Homo sapiens: one gene and its partner. The protein of the gene in region 1 binds, or shares a complex with, the protein of each later gene. Each region holds a gene or a part of one and is shown in the gene's direction. Other genes may lie near its edges. The genes, in order: CSTF1 and CSTF3.

Region 1 (8,100 bases):
TAAGGGATCTAAATTTAAATCCAAAGTAAAGGCGGAAAGAATTCCCGACAAGACCAACCTCCATGTGGGTTTATAAATGTGAATGAGATTACAGATTATTCAATTTACCTTAACAGGTCCTGAAATGCAGTTTTCTTTAGATCGGTCCATGATGCCTGAAAAGAAAAAGAAGAACCTTTAATTTGAACAAAGCCACCTGCTTAAAGTGCTGTTGCTCGATAGGCAGCGTTACAGTTCCCCAATCAAAAGGCCTCCACAACACACCGGATTTTACATGTTTTGTCCAAATGAAGCTAATGAGGGAGGGACAGGCATGTGCTTTCCCTGCAAGGCCAACCTCCCCTTGGGCACTGCGTCCCATCCTCTGTCACGGAGTCTTCACTCCTGATGGTCTTGCTGCTCCATCATCTCTCCTCTAATGGATCACTTCCATCCCTGTGCAGCCTACTGGCATACCTGCTACCTTAAAAAAGTCCTCTTTAGGCCGGGCATGGTGGCTTACACCTGTAATCCCAGCATTTTGGGAGGCCGAGGTGGGCGGATCACCTGAGGTCAAGAGTTCGAGACCAGCCTGGCCAACATGGTGAAACCCCGTCTCTACTAAAAATACAAAACTTAGCTGAGCGTGGTGGCAGTCACCTGTAATCCCAGCTACTCGGGAGGCTGAGGCAGGAGAATCACTTAAACCCAGGAAGCAGAGGTTGCAGTGAGCTGAGATCACACCATTGCACTCCAGCCTATGGGAAAAGAGCGAGACTTCGTCTCAAAACAATAAAATAAAATAAAAGTCCTCTTTATTCTATTATCGTTGCTAACAATGACCCCCTCCTCTCCAACAGCAAAGCTCCAGAAGAACCGTCCACACTTGCCACCTCTACTGCTCCTCTCCCCTCCCCTGAGCCCATCCCCACCTGGCTTTTTTGTCTCCACCACATTGTCAGGCTCATGGCTGACACCTACTGCTGCCAAACCCAAGGGTCAATTCCACCTTCCCCGTACTTGCATCCTCAGCAGAATCTGACAAGGTTGATCACATCTTACACTTTTTTCTTCACTTCACTTCCAGGTTTATCTACCACCTAGTCGTCCTGTCTTTCCCTCCTTGCTGGGTCAGTCTCATTTTTGCCAGATCAAGGGTCTGGGGTGACTCAAGAACGAGTCCCTGGACCCTCCACTTCTCCATCTACACCTTCACCAGGGATCCATATCACCCAGTGCCTCAGCTCTAAATGCCTTCATGAGGACCACTCAAAGTGCGTCTTCTGCCCTAGTCTCTCCTTGGACTGTCAGACTTGGATATCCAAGGATTTGCCCAGGATCTCCCAAAAATGTCTGCCAGGCACCTCAATCCTAACATATCCAAAACTGAACCTCTTCCCTTCTCCACTTCTCACCTCCCTGTTCATGGGTGTGCCCTGAGCTCAGGCCTAGAATGACTTCTCCATCTCCAATTACTCCCTAGCCGAGTACATCCAGTCTCTTTGCTTTCAGTACCATCTACAGGCTGAGGACTCCCAAATATTCATTCTTCAGCCCAGACCTCTCCCCTGAACTCTTGATCTACATTTTCTACTTTCTATGCAACATCTGCACCTGATTATCTGAGCGGCATCTCCATTCTAACATGTCCCAAACAGAAGTCCTAATCTCTCCCCACTCTCACCTCCCCAAATCTAGTCTCTAGACATCCTCATCTCAGTGCATGGCAAACCCATCCTGTCAGTTGCTCAGGCCAAAAGCCTTGGCATAATAACCCTTTACGAGGTTCTCTCTCGCAAACCCTTCATTTAATCCACCAGCATATTCTGTAGGCTCTGCCTTCAAGATCACTGCTCACCACCTCTACTACTACCACCTGGTCAAACCATTATTCTCTCTCCCTTGAGTTTTTTCCAACAGCCTCCCAATGGCCTCCCCACTTCCACCCTTACCCTGTCATGGTCCATTCTTAACACTGAGGCCGGCAATCTCATTAACAAATCAGATGTGTTGATCCTCAGTTCAGAAGACCCCCATGGCTCCCAACTCAATCAAAACAATGCAAACTCCTAACCTGCATAGACAGGCCTATTGAAGTCTCACAGAACATGGACCCTAACTACCTCTCTGACTTCATCTCCTCTTCTTGTCAACCGTGTACCAGCCACACAAGGCTTTCTTTCTGCAAATAAGTCCCCTGCCATAAGCATTTGCACTTCTTGCTCCCTTTATTACGCTTTTCCCCCAGGTGTGTAGTTCAGTCTTTCATTTCACTGAGGTTTCTTTTTTTTTTTTTTTGAGATAGAGTTTGCTCTTGTTGCCCAGGCTGGAGTGCAATGGCGCAATCTCGGCTCACCCGCAACCTCCACCTCCTGGGTTCAAGCAATTCTCCTGCCTCAGCCTCCAGAGTAGCTGGGATTACAGACATGCACCACCACGCCCAGCTGATTTTGTATTTTTAGTAGAGACAGGGTTTCTCTATGTTGGTAGGGCTGGTCTGGAACTCCCGACCTCAGGTGATCCACCCACCTCGGCCTCCGAAAATGCTGGGATTACGGGCATGAGCCACCGCGCCCGGCCTTCACTGAAGTTTCTTATCAAATATCCCCGCACTCTGGCCTGGGCAATGGAGTGAGACCCTGTCTCAAAAAAAAAAATTAAGATTACCATTTTACAATTAAGCAAATAATTCCATGATGAAGCCAGGCCCAGACTACAGGCTGCAGCCCTTATAAAAAAACAGTGGGTAAGTAAAAGTTGATAAACAGCAACAAGGAAATGCACACTTGTGTTAATCAAATATTTAATTTCACACATGCTCTAATGCTTTACTTCCCTTACAATTCTAAGTAGCAGTCTAATGAGATCACATAGGCCTAACAACATTTATTCAACATTCTTCTGACAGAAGCTACAGGCATTTGCTCCAATTTATTCTACCTTTCTTTCTAGGGAAATTGAATAACAAGCAGAATGGAATAAGATTCTAATCCAGAATTCTGGAGACAACGCCAAGGAGACTGCCCTTCAGGTGACTCTAATCTGCAACCAGATTGAAGAACCAGATGACTTTCACAGGATCCATTCAGTTCAAACCAGAAGTCCTACTATTTTGAATAGAAAAGCTGTTAGGCTAATAGCGCAGGAGGTTTATACGGTTTATTCCTTCCTCCCTCAGACCTGTGCATGTCTGCAGAGATGAAGGGAAGGACGAACTGAGTAGGTTGCTGAAAAACGTTTAATTCAAGGGACAAGGAAGGTTACGGAAGAGGAAGAGACATTACGAGAGTTAAGGACAGTGGCTACGTCTACCTCAGCCGGATGGTTCTTAGAAATGGAGACTCTGAGGCCTAACCCCAGGTCTAAAAAAACAGATTCTGCATTTTAACGTCCCCAGACGATTTGTATGCACCGGTCTGCATCCCTAGTTCTCAATGAAACCTAAGAATCATCTGGAGAGTTTGTTAATAACTAGACACCTGGGTCCTACCCCTCAGAGATTCTGATTTACCGGGCTCTCGGTGGAGCTATATGTTTAACAAGCACTGCAAGTTATCCCGGTACAACTGCTCCAAGGTCTACGGTCTGAGAAGTACGGACCGGGAAGGCCTCTGCAAGGAGGTTCTCATTCATCAATTCACCCACTCATCCAGCCAGGACAAGGGCCTTCTTAGGCTATTCTATCTAAAGCGGCCCCCGTTAAACCGCACTCCTGCTTTTCCTCTGTAACACCCACCCCAGCTGCAAGTTCTCCGTACGCTTACCGTCTGTCTCCCCACCCACTAGAACGTGAACTCCAACACAGCAGAGACCTTCTGTGCTTTTCTTACCCAGGTGATCTCGGAGGACAAAATCCAATCTGAAGCCCACCCACCCCTCCCGCGCATGTCAACACCACTCAACAAACCCCTTGTACCTCTAGCTGTAATAAGTAACAAGCAGTATCCTACAGGGCGCCTCGGTGCCCAGGAGCGGATGCAAAGGCGCTGGGCGGGCACAAGGCAGCGCCAAGGACACTCAGGGACGGAGGAACCGACAGGGGACTTGACGCTCCGCCACTCCGACCAGCCGCCCCTTGTCCCCGCCGTCCTCGTCCGCCACTGAGATATCCCCCACGGTCTACCCACCCGTCGGCTCCCACCTGCGACCCAAGGACCCAAGTCTTCCAAGAGCTCAGCCGTTAGAATTCAAAGGTTCTTCTTTTTAAATAGGAGTTAAACCCTCTAGCTAGAAAGCCGATTGGCCTGCGCTCGAGCGAGGCTGCCTTGTGATTGGTTGACAACAAACCCGACGCCTTGAGTCGCGTTTAAGGGCGCACACCGCGCGCAGGCGCACTTGCTCCCTAAGAACCCGGAAGTGGTGGAGCCAACGGCCAGCCAGACCTGTGGCAGTCCCAGCCCCAGGGTGCTCTCCGCGGTCGGCCATTTATCGGTGAAGCAACAGCCCCTTGACGTCAAGCTTGACGCATTGGAGATAAAGTCCAAGGAGGTGAACTAACCTTTGAACGTGCCAGTAAGTAAGATGGCGAGAAAAGCAAGAGAGAGTGGGACCGATCGATAGCGCAGCGGTCGGCTTGGCGCCCTTTCAGCGTGCGCAGTGAACGTGCGCTCGGAGCGGTAGATTGGGCAGGATTCGCGCCTCCATTTTTCCAGGAGAGAGCGGGATACCAAGAGAACCGGACCAGCTGGTACTGGGACACGGGGAGAGTAGCTGGTGCGGTCGGCTGGGGCATTTAGAGAAAACCACAGAAACGACTGGGGCGAGACTGGAAGAGTCGAGAGTTAGCAAGGTGGCATGCGCCTCTACTTTGCGTTTCCTAAGTTGCCCGGCTTGGCCTGCACCCCTTCCTCTTCTCGAAGGGCCTCGCTTCCATTCCCACCCAGTCCTTAGTTCGCCTCTGCATCCAGATGGTCGCGGCGCATATAGTGAGGGGGCATCTGTGTTCTAGCCTTTCCAACTGCGATGTATCCGGTCCTGGATCGGGTTCTTGTCCTCGTGTGCTCACCTGCAAATTGGGGATAATTAGGCTTCTGTTTACCTGGCGAGTGAACGTTCTGTGGGAGTTGAGAAGTTAGGGGTGGGCCACTTAAAATATATATATATATACACACACACACACATATACATATATATACACACACATATGTGTGTGTGTGTGTGTGTATGTACACCCGGGATGTGCTCAGCAGAAGTGAAGAGACCGGATAGAACAGTGGTGTAGGGGAACCAAAAATGGCTTCCCTCCATCCTTCCAGGTACCTTATTAGGACTAAGAGTTAAATTCACATAAGACGAATTAACAGATTACTGCAGGGTAAACAGGATGTGCATGTAAAGCATTGAGCTAGCATACGGAAATTATTCGAGTCATATTAACCCAACGTTAACAGTAGAATCTCTCATCAACTTTTCTTTGCCAGACTACCCACTTGTGATTTTCATTCTTTATTGGTACTTAAGAATCTCCCATTTTTTTCGGGTAACTGAACATTGTCCATGGGAGAAAAACGATATTTAATTACGTACAGGAGTCCCACAAAATACGAGACTAAAAGTTGAAGTCAGATGATTAAAGCCTACATGGCATCCTGAGCTACTGAAAGGAATGAATAGAGAATTGGGGGCGGGGGGCGGGAAGCAGCTCTAACACAAGTTATGGGACGGTGAACGGAGGAAATGTATGGTGAATCAAGTTTGTTATGCAGACAGAATAGGTGATCTTCTGGGTGGTGTCAGCCTCTAATCTCTCATGTGATCCGAGTTAATCTTCCCTGGTTTATAAGGATTCGTGACAATTGAGGTATTTTTGGAGGGTCAGACTTTAGGCAGGTAAGGAAAGCACAGGGAAAGCCTCTTCCCGCCTGCTGTTCTCCAGGTGCCCTCAGTTCAAGGTAATCAGCCCGCCAAAGCATCTTGTTTTGGGCTGGCATTTCCTGAACTCCTTCAGTGGTTAAGCTCAGGGATCTGGAGTTGGCAATTCTGGTGTGCTTTAACCTTGGACAAGTAACTCAGCCACTTTTTACGTTGAGTAGGTGTCCTGACCTCCTTGAACCCATTTCATCATCTTTATTTGTGTCCCAGGATTTTCTACTCAAGCATAGACCTACTATGTTCATGTACTACTTCATATACTTGAATACATTGAATGATTTTATTCAGTGAACTGATGCTTACAAAGTACTTAGCATGACGGTATCTGGCATGCAGGAAGTGCTTAATGTTATTGGTTATTATTAACACCATCAGTGTCATACAGTGTGTAAGAAATCAGGCTCTGGGCCAGGCGCAGTGGCTCGCGCCCGTAATCCCAGCACTTTGGGAGGCGGAGGCAGGCAGATCACCTGAGGTCAGGAGTTTCGAGACCAGCCTGGCCAATATGGTGAAACCCCGTCTCTACTAAAAATACAAAAATTAGCCTGGTGTGGTGGCGGGCGCCTGTAGTCTTAGCTACTCGGGAGGCTGAGACAGGAGAATAGCTTGAACCCAGGAGGCGGAGGTTGCAGTGAGCCGAGATCGCGCCACTGCCCTCAAGCCTGGGCGACAGAGCGAGACTCCGTCTCAAAAAGAAAAAAGAAATCAGGCTCTGAGGTCACTTTTATTCTTTATTGCTGTCCCCAGACACCTGTAGCCTTTTAATCTTGGTCCAAACATACACATACATAAAGGCATTGATTTTTGGTAAGCAAATTATCATGTTGAACAGTTGGAGTTCTTTTTTGAATAAGCCAGAAACCATTTACAGTTTTTTGTCTCTTAAGACTGAAGGAAAACTTAGACACTTGTAAGTCAGTGCATGCACAATCCTTCCCGATTATTACTGTTTTTTTTTTCATTTTTATTGTTTTGACCTTGATTGGCAATATTTTATTGGGCAGCTCACCTTTGAGCCTTTCTAACGCATTTAACTCGGTTGGAGTTTTTGTAGTACAGTTGCTTTTTTTTGCTTCATATTTTGATTTACTGTCTAATTAGATTATATAATTACAGTAACAAGCTCAGTTGCCTTAAAACAGGTTTTGAGAATGAGCATAAAAGATTAGTAAACATACAGCTCAGCTAGTGGAACCAGCAGTCTAGATCTTGACAAAATAGCAGCTATCTTGCATATTGCAGGTACCAGTCAATGTTTAATTAACAGAAGTAATGGAAGATTCTGGGATAACAATAAAGAACAAAAATCATAGGTAGCTAGTTTGGTGGAGAAGAAAAGTTGGTGAGAGATTGTACCGTAAACACTGGCTAACATGACTTGAACAATTTCTGTATGCCAGGCACTGTGCTCAGGGCTTTATATGCACCACCGTGTTTAACTTCCAGTAACTTAACAGCTGAAGAACCTCAGGCTTAGAGAAATGAGGTCACTGACCAAAGATAATGCAGCTAGTAGAGATGGGATTTGAGTCCTGCAAGATTAAGTCTGACCAAAGAGTCCTATGTTGCTTCTGTGATTTACTAGAGCCTGTACCCTTCACCGTCCATTTTCCGTTTTTGCAGCTGGCAGGGAAACTGTCTTCCTTTTCTCCAAGATGTACAGAACCAAAGTGGGCTTGAAGGACCGCCAGCAGCTCTACAAGCTGATCATTAGCCAGCTGCTATATGACGGCTACATCAGCATCGCCAATGGCCTCATCAATGAAATCAAGCCTCAGTCTGTGTGTGCACCCTCGGAGCAGCTCCTGCATCTCATCAAACTCGGTAGATTGTGAACACAAATCCATACGTCCCATGGCAAGGTTTTAGATATTTTCATATGGCAGAATTTTTCAAGATTATTCTTGTTTTGTTTCAGTACCTAGTATGAGCCGGGTACTTCAGTAAGTAAGTAGTTCAGCATGAGTTCAGGAAGTAGCTCAGTAAGTAAGGGGTAAAGCAAAGTTCAGATTATGAAGACCTTAAGCTGGTTCTGGCCTGAGGGTCTTTGTACACATTATCTGGAACACTCTGTCAGACATATTACTGACTTCCTTCAGATTTTACATCAAATGTCATCTGAGTTCTCTTAACTCCTCCTAAAATAATCCGACCCTTTCGTGCATTTTCCCGGTTACCCTGCCATAGCGATCCCATTTGTTTTATAACAGTTGTTTTGAAATTTCCTTTATCATTTGGGCTGTTTCCCAT
Region 2 (7,772 bases), on another chromosome or scaffold:
CACCCAAGAAAATAGTATTTCTAAAATCTAGTTCTTTAAATTTCCCCATTTGTCCCAAGAATGTGATTTTTTTTTTAACCAGAATCAATCTAGATTTACATATTGAATCATTTACTTCTGTCTCTTAAGTAGTCTCACCATTCTTCTCCCCTGGGGCTGTTGTCTATTCGAAGTGTCAAGGACACTTAACACTGCTTTTCTGGGTGTATTTGTTTTTTGTTGTTTGTTTGCTTGCTTGCTTTTGGTTTGGGGGTTGATGATGTCATTTAACTTGTCCCTTCATCTGTATTTCCTGAAAACTTTACAGTTAGGTCTATACTCAGCCTTGATATTTGGGTTAAGTATTTTTGGATAGAATACTTAACATTATATCATTACATTAGCAGGTACTTCTGCTGGGTTCTGTTAGGATGGTTAAGTTTGATCACTTGGTTTAGGGTGATCTCATTGTTAAGGGTCATGTTCCCCTTTGCAGTTAATAATCTGTGAGTTGATAACCGTTTTCTTTAAAATCACCTTATACCTAGTTATCAATTGATAAATCTTGACTAAATCAGCTCTTACATTGGAAGTAGCAAATGGTGGTTTTGTTTTGTTTTTAAAACCCACAATTCTGTTGGTCTGTGTCTGTTTACTGGCTCATACTTTCTGCAAAAAAGACTTTTTTTCTTCCTAAAGATTAAGTATCGCTATGGATTCATGGATTTCTCTTAGTGTGTTAGTATCAGTGATAGCCATTTTTCTTTTGCACACTCAACTTGTCCAAACCTTTTTGGTGGTTCTTATATCTTTTCCTTAAGTCTGAAAGGCAATTTAGACATCTGATTATCAACAAGGAAGTCATCTTCATATAGCCTTTTCTTTAACTTTTTAATAATACATTTCAAACATGTAAGAAAAACAGTATAATATATGAAGTACCTGTCATAGAGCTTCAATTTATGGCTAATCTTGTTTCCTCCATGACTTCATTTGCTTCTCTCACCCCCATTACTTCGAAGCAAATCCTAGATACTGTATTCAGCTTCAACTAAAATAACCATTAAATAACACCTTAAGGATGGAAAATATGAATGAGCTGTACCTTGCTTGATATTTAAGACAATATTGAAAATCTGGAGGAAAAGAGAGTATCCAAAATAACCTGAAATCATGGATGAGAAAAATAAACTCAATGAGACTAAAGAATAATAAGAAAAAAATTAAAACCATTGAATCATGGATTTGCTTTGGAAAAATGCCAAGGGATGGGGTGGACAAAGAGTCCTACAAGATGCAGGTGTAGATTTAGCCTTTTAGTAGCATTGAAGTTCAAGTTTGTAGAATAAACCTGATACTATCTTAAATTTATTACTAAAATATATGGATAGTCATTTTTCTCTTGGTGCTAAGATTTGTGATTTGTGCCCCCTAACAGAGGGAAATTATTGCAGACAAGCAAAATCACTGCTAAAGGTTTATTGCTGTGATTTTTTTTTCAACTCTAGTAGGGAAGTTCAATTTTGCATGTAGAGAGCTATTGGAATTACCTTATAGTGTTCAAGGATCTCTTCTGAAGCTCCTTGCTTATTGTTTTTGCCAGTTTAATGGTGAAAAAACTATTTGCATATAGGTTTACCCCCCTAACAAACATATGATTTCTGTGTGGAATTATGGCTGTATTATTTATTTCATGGTTTTGTTTTTTTGTGTTTGTTTTTTGTTTTTTTGAGATGGAGTCTTGCTCTGTTGCCCAGGCTGGAGTGCAGTGGCACGGTCTCGGCTCACTGCAACCTCCGCCTCCCAGGTTCAAGCAATTCTCCTGCCTCAGCCTCTTGAGTAGCTGGGATTACAAGCACACGCCACAATGCCCGGCTAATTTTTTTGTATTTTTAGTAGAAATGGTGTTTCACCATGTTGACCAGGCTGGTCTTGAACTCCTGACCTCAAGTGATCTGCCTGCCTCAGCCTCCCAAAGTGCTGGGATTACAGGCGTGAGCCACTGCGCCCAGCCTGTGGTGTTTGTTTTTTTTAATGCCTGATTCAACTTTTGATCTCATTCTTAGGTCTATTTAACCTTGTGCACTACTCTTAAGGCATTTAATATGCTGTTATTTAGACATTTTCCATTGGGTTTTGAACTTCTTTAGTTGAAGAGATGATGTTATTCATCTTTATGTCTTAAAGACCTAAGAAATAATATTTTGATGCTTAAAGGTATTCAGTAAATGAATGGATTAAGTTTGCATCTTTTAAAAAAAATTATTTATTTACTATTTAGGTAGAGACGAGGTCTCACTGTGTTTCCCAGGCTGGTCTTGAACTCCTGGACTTAAGTGATCCTCCTGCCTCAGCCTTCCAAACTGTTGGATTACAGGTGTGAGTCCAGCCATATTTCACCTTTTAAATAATGTATAACTTATCCTAGAATTTGGAAGGCCTAAAATACAAGCCAAATGATCCTCAGCTTGGAAAAGCTACATGATTCTAAGAAGCGCAAATTAATTGCTGGTAGTTCTTAACAAAGGAGCATTTAGGCTCATAAATACGTGTTTTTAGTGAAAAATAATTTTGGGAAGATTTAGAAAATAATGAAGAGTATGTGTCCTATTATATACTTATTATTAATAAGGAAAGAAAAAGTTGAAACACCCACAGCATTGAAACCTGAAACCTGGTTTATTTCGTTAGGTAAACATTAGTACTTAAGCTGTTTAGAAGTAACAGTATCGCCAATTTTAGTCAAGGTGCATATATGTGTAGGGGTTAGAAGAGGCAGAGAAAGAGCCAACTATGTGTGTTGGACAATGTGTTTTTTTGGATTTATTTTTTCCAAAATCTTTCTGTAACAGCCCTTCCTAGTTTTCTGCCTCCTATTTTTAGTGATGCTTGTTTGGTGTAACAGTTTTGGGCAGGCAAATTGATTTGATCTTTATTGTTGATATTTCTTAGGAAACTGGAGCATTATCAAATATTCTGTTTGGGGACAGTTGTTCCTAAGAGAAGTTGCTCTGTGCTTAAAGAATGAGAATTGGGTTTTTCTTAGAGATACAGCAGAAAGGTACTGTGTTAGGTGATACTGCATTCCTTCAACATTATTTCAGGGAATGTAGGCATTTACATCCCAGATAGACCTTCAGAAGGGCAAAATCTGTATTTGGGTGTTTTTACCTATTGGACAATTACCCATACCAATTCATGATTTTAAGCTTTTTTTTTTAAATCTTCGATTTGGTGACGGTGATTTTAAGCTTTTCTACCATGTCTCTGAATCTTTCTCTTTAGATAGGACCTACCTGTGAATTTGAGTCTTTTTGTTTTGTTTTGTTGGACAGTTGGTAATGGTGTGAGAATTGGGCTAAAAAAGGGATTTGAGTTGGCAGTTGTTTAAACTATCTTTAGATTAATGGACAACTTAGGATACATAGTAAATATTGAATAAAATCAGAAGGGCAAAGCTTCTGTGTGTCCTAATTAATGTTTTTCTAATGTTTGACTTAGTTTATTTAGTGTATTAAATCTGGATTATTCATATTTGAAAGAAGTCTCATCTTTTAAGTTCCAAACGGTTAAGATTTTAATTTATATTTTGTAGCTATTTGTTTCCTAGGGGATGAATATGCAAGTTTACTAAGCAGATAATGGTAAATATAATTATTTGAACTAATATGTTAAGCCAAGATCTTTTTTTTTTTTTTAATTTTTTTATTTTTATTTTTTCGAGACAGAGTCTTGCACTTTCGCCCAGGCTGGAGCACAGTGGCGCAATCACGGCTCGCTGCAAGCTCCGCTTCCTGGGTTCACGCTATTCTCCTACCTCAGCCTCCCTAGTAGCGGGGACTATAGGTGCCCGCCACCACGCCCTCACGCCCAGCTAATTTTTTATATTTTTAATAGAGATGGGGTTTCACTGTGTTAGCCAGGATGGTCTTGATCTCCTGACCTCATGATCCGCCCGCCTTGGCCTTCCAAAGCGCTGGGATTACAGGTGTGAGCCACCATGCCCGGCCCAAGATCTTTTTTTTTTTAAGTTTTTGAGTTGTTTGTATGTTTAGATTTTTAATCTATGGATGATTTGGAGGGATTAGTTTTGTATTGTAGGATACATGTTCAGTTTCATTCACAACAAACATGAAGTAGGGTTTGGTTGCATTGGTAAAGGAACACAGAACTAAGCTGACATCTGGTCCTAATATCCGGTCTCATTGTGACACCTGTCACATATAGTTCTTTATTATCTGGGCATATGAATGGAATCAGTTAGGTTACTCCTCTATGAAAGTCTCAGCACGGCACCGTGGCTCACGCCTGTCTGTAATCCCAGCACTTCGGGAGGCTGAGGCTGGCGGATCACTTGGTCAGGAGTTTGAGACCAGCCTGGCTAGTATGGTGAAACTCCGTCTCTACTAAAAATACAAAAATTAGCTGAGTGTGGTGGTGCATACCTGTAATCCCAGCTACTTGGGAGGCTGAGGCAGGATAATCACTTGAACCCGGGAGTCGGAGGTTGCAGTGAGCCAAGGTACAGCCACTGCACTCCAGCCTAGGTGACAGAGTGAGACTTCATCTCAAAAAAAAAAAAAAAAAAAAAAAGAAAGTCTTACGGAGTGCTACTCCGGTCTACTTTTAATTTTGAAAAAAAGTTAACCACAGAGAGAGACTTAAGACTTCAAATATATAGTATATTCAGTTTTCTTAATATTTTAGCAAAAAATTCACTTGGAATGACAGGTTTGTTGCCACCTTATTTTTAATGAAACGTGACATTTGGAAAACATTTGTGGAACAGATAGATGAGGTGGTACATATTTCTTAAAGTGGAGCCCATGGCCCATTTATGTCATAATTAGGTGCGTTATAAAAGTATAGATACGTAGACTCTGATTTCAAACCTAACTGTTCAGTGGGGCTGAGAATCTTCGTTTGAAACAGGTACCACAGTGGTTTTTATGTCAATAAAAGCTTGCAGACCACAGAGTTAGATGATAGCTGGTTGTTTTAAAATATATTCTTGATAAATAAGTGGATGAAAAAATGGCAGATATTTGAGGATGGTATTTTACTGATTTTTCCTGCCCACCTGCTCCCCACCCCCATATATTTAGTTATTACCCTGAATAGCGAGAAATACTCATTATAAAACCAGGGTTGAGGCTCAACTCTGCTTTTTCTGTTGGTCATAGTAAAAAGCTTACATCGTCTTAAATCTTTCAGTCTACCATCTTTCTCCCCCTCTATTCATACTTTTGTGTTATCACTTTAACTGATCCCTACTTTAACTTAATTTCAGTATGGCTCCTAATATAACACCCTTCTAATTTATCATGAAAGTAGCTATTTGGAGAAAGAGAATTATCTTTTTTTTTTTTTTTGTCTGTTTTACCTGCATGGTCGAAATGGAAGAAATTAGATTATTATTATTATTGTTATTATTACTATTTTTTTTAGAGATGAGATCTTGCTCTGTTGCCCAGGCTGCAGTGCATTGGCGTGGTCATAGCTCACCACAGCCTCAACGTCCTGGCCTCAAGGACTCCTCCCACCTCAGCCTCCCAAAGTGCTGAGATTACAGTTGTGACCCACTGTGCCCAGCCTTAAATTATATTATTTCAGTCATTAACATGATAGTGTCTGTCACCTCTTCACATCCCACCTTCCCATTAACAACCTCCTAATAAAAGTTATGAGCTCATATAGAAAGAAAGTGGTTAGGAGTTTCAATAAAGCATAACTCATAGGGCTTTCCAGAGGCTACATCACCTATCCACAATTGTATGTAAAGGCTGTTAAAAATGGTCTTTCCTCCCTTTTCCAACTACGTAACTGTGAGGCTAAAATTTTTTCATATTTTTCATCTAAAACAATATATTGTAACAGATTGAAAGAAGCAGATAATGTCTTCTATTCAGCCAGACATTTAAAAGATCATGAAAATGTAAAATGGTGCCATTCTTTTGACTTTTTTTTTTATTTTGGAAAATTTCCTTCAGTAAAATATTTATATTCATATTTAAGGAATTTATTATTTTTAAGTGAATTAAATACTTTAATTTTTTGTTTTAATTTCTTATGTGAGTAATGATAGAATCCCTCTGGGCTCCTCAATTATTATTGTTATTTTTTTTTTTGGAGGCGGAGTCTCACTCTTGCTCAGGCTGGAGTGCAGTGGTGCGATCCCAGCTCACTGCAACCTCCACCTCCCGGGTTCAAGCGATTCTCCTGCCTCACCTTCCCAAGTAGCTAGGACTACAGGCATGTGCCCACACCCAGCTAATTTTTTGTATTTTTAGTAGAGACAGGGTTTCACCAAATTGGCCAGGCTGGTCTCGAACTCCTGACCTTGTGATCCGCCCACCTCGGCCTCCCAAAGTGCTGAGATTACAGGCGTGAGTCACCGCGCCCGGCCCAAGCTCCTCAGTTTTTAAGAATGTGAAGCAATCCTTTACAAAATGTTTGAGAATAGTTGGAATAGTACATCATGTCTGTGAAGCCAAGATTGTAAGTTCTATTTCTCTGAGTTAGTTAGCTTCACATAACAGACGGTTAAACATGGAAAGTGGCAAGGCATCCCACAGAATAGGATACAGTTTTTGTAAATCATGTCTGATAAGGGATTTGTAACTCCAACATGTAAAAATTCATTAATGAAAAAACCCAGCCAGGTGCGGTGGTGCACGCCTGTAGTCCCAGCTATTTGGGAGGCTGAGGCAGGAGGATTGATCGAACCCAGGAGTTCAAGTCCAACCTGAGCAACATAGCAAAACTATACCTCTAAAAAGTAATAATAATACGTCCAGTTTTTATTTTATTTATTTCTATTTTTTCAAGACATAGTCTCGCTCTGTCGCCCAGGCTGGAGTGCAGCGGCACAATCTTGGCTCAGTGGAACCTCTGCCCCTCCCCGCCGGCTCAAGGGATCCTCCCACCTTAGCCTCCTGAGTAGGTGGGATTACAGGTGCCTGTCACCATGCCTGGCTAATTTTTTGTATTTTTAGTAGAGACAAGGTTTCACCATGTTGGCCAGGCTGGTCTCAAACTCCTGATAAGTCCAGTTTTTAAATGGGCAAAATATTTGAACAGACATTTCTCCAAAGAAGATGTACAAATGGCCAATAAGAAAATGAAAAGACGCTCTACTTTGATAGCCATCAGAGAAATGTAAATCAAAACCACAATGAGATATCACTTCAGACCCACAAGGATGGCTGTAATAAAAAAGATAATATCAAATGTTGGTAAGGATATGGAGAAATTAGAACCCCTTATACTGGAAATGTAAAATAGTACAGCCCCTTTAAAGTCTGGTAGTTTTTCAGAAGGTAAAACATAAGAGTTACCACATTACTTAGCCATTCCATTTCTAGGTATATATCCAAGAAAAAGGAAAACACACAAAATGAACTCCACAAAGAAATCTTACACACTAATGTTCATAGTAACATTATTCATAATAGCCAAAACTGGAAACAATCCAAAGTCCATCGGCTGATACATAAACAAATGTAGGATATGCACATAATGGAATATTGTCAAAAGTAAAGTACTTAGTATATGCAAAAACATGAACTTTGAAAACACGCTAACTGAAAGCCAAAACAACGCCAGTCATGGTGGCTCACGGTGGTAATCCCAACACTTTGAGAGGCCGAGGCAGGTGGATTGCTTGAGCCCAGGAGTTCAAGACCAGCCTGGACAATATGGCAAAACCCCATCTCTATAAATTATAAAATTTAGCTGGGCATGGTGGCACATGCCTGTAGTCCATTATCGGGAGGTCTAGGTGGGAGGATTGA

What was found.
Region 2: the proteins of CSTF1 (region 1) and CSTF3 are in contact, whole or in part, in a crystal structure (PDB 6B3X), measured with the Homo sapiens proteins. Residues at the interface, in NP_001028693.1 of Homo sapiens: Arg118, Glu216, Ala217, His226, Pro227, Ser228, Asp230, Phe231, Thr240, Arg242, Leu243, Tyr244, Cys251, Phe252, Val253, Ser254, Cys255, Tyr270, Ser272, Ser273, Ala274, Asn275, Gly291, Val292, Ser293, Asn294; in NP_001317.1 of Homo sapiens: Tyr581, Pro582, Lys583, Pro584, Asp585, Thr586, Gln588, Met589, Ile590, Pro591, Phe592, Pro594.

What each region holds. Positions count from the first base shown.
Region 1 is NC_000020.11:56,388,048-56,396,147, forward strand, and holds the start of CSTF1 (cleavage stimulation factor subunit 1), read left to right. Parts: upstream 1-4,597; 5' UTR 4,598-4,666; exon of another isoform or gene 4,667-4,768; intron 4,769-7,473; 5' UTR 7,474-7,505; coding exon 7,506-7,674; intron 7,675-8,100. Other genes in the region: AURKA (aurora kinase A), read right to left, coding at 109-155, 265-361. UniProt on the Homo sapiens protein: One of the multiple factors required for polyadenylation and 3'-end cleavage of mammalian pre-mRNAs. May be responsible for the interaction of CSTF with other factors to form a stable complex on the pre-mRNA.
Region 2 is NC_000011.10:33,151,292-33,159,063, reverse strand, and holds part of CSTF3 (cleavage stimulation factor subunit 3), read left to right. Parts: intron 1-7,772. UniProt on the Homo sapiens protein: One of the multiple factors required for polyadenylation and 3'-end cleavage of mammalian pre-mRNAs.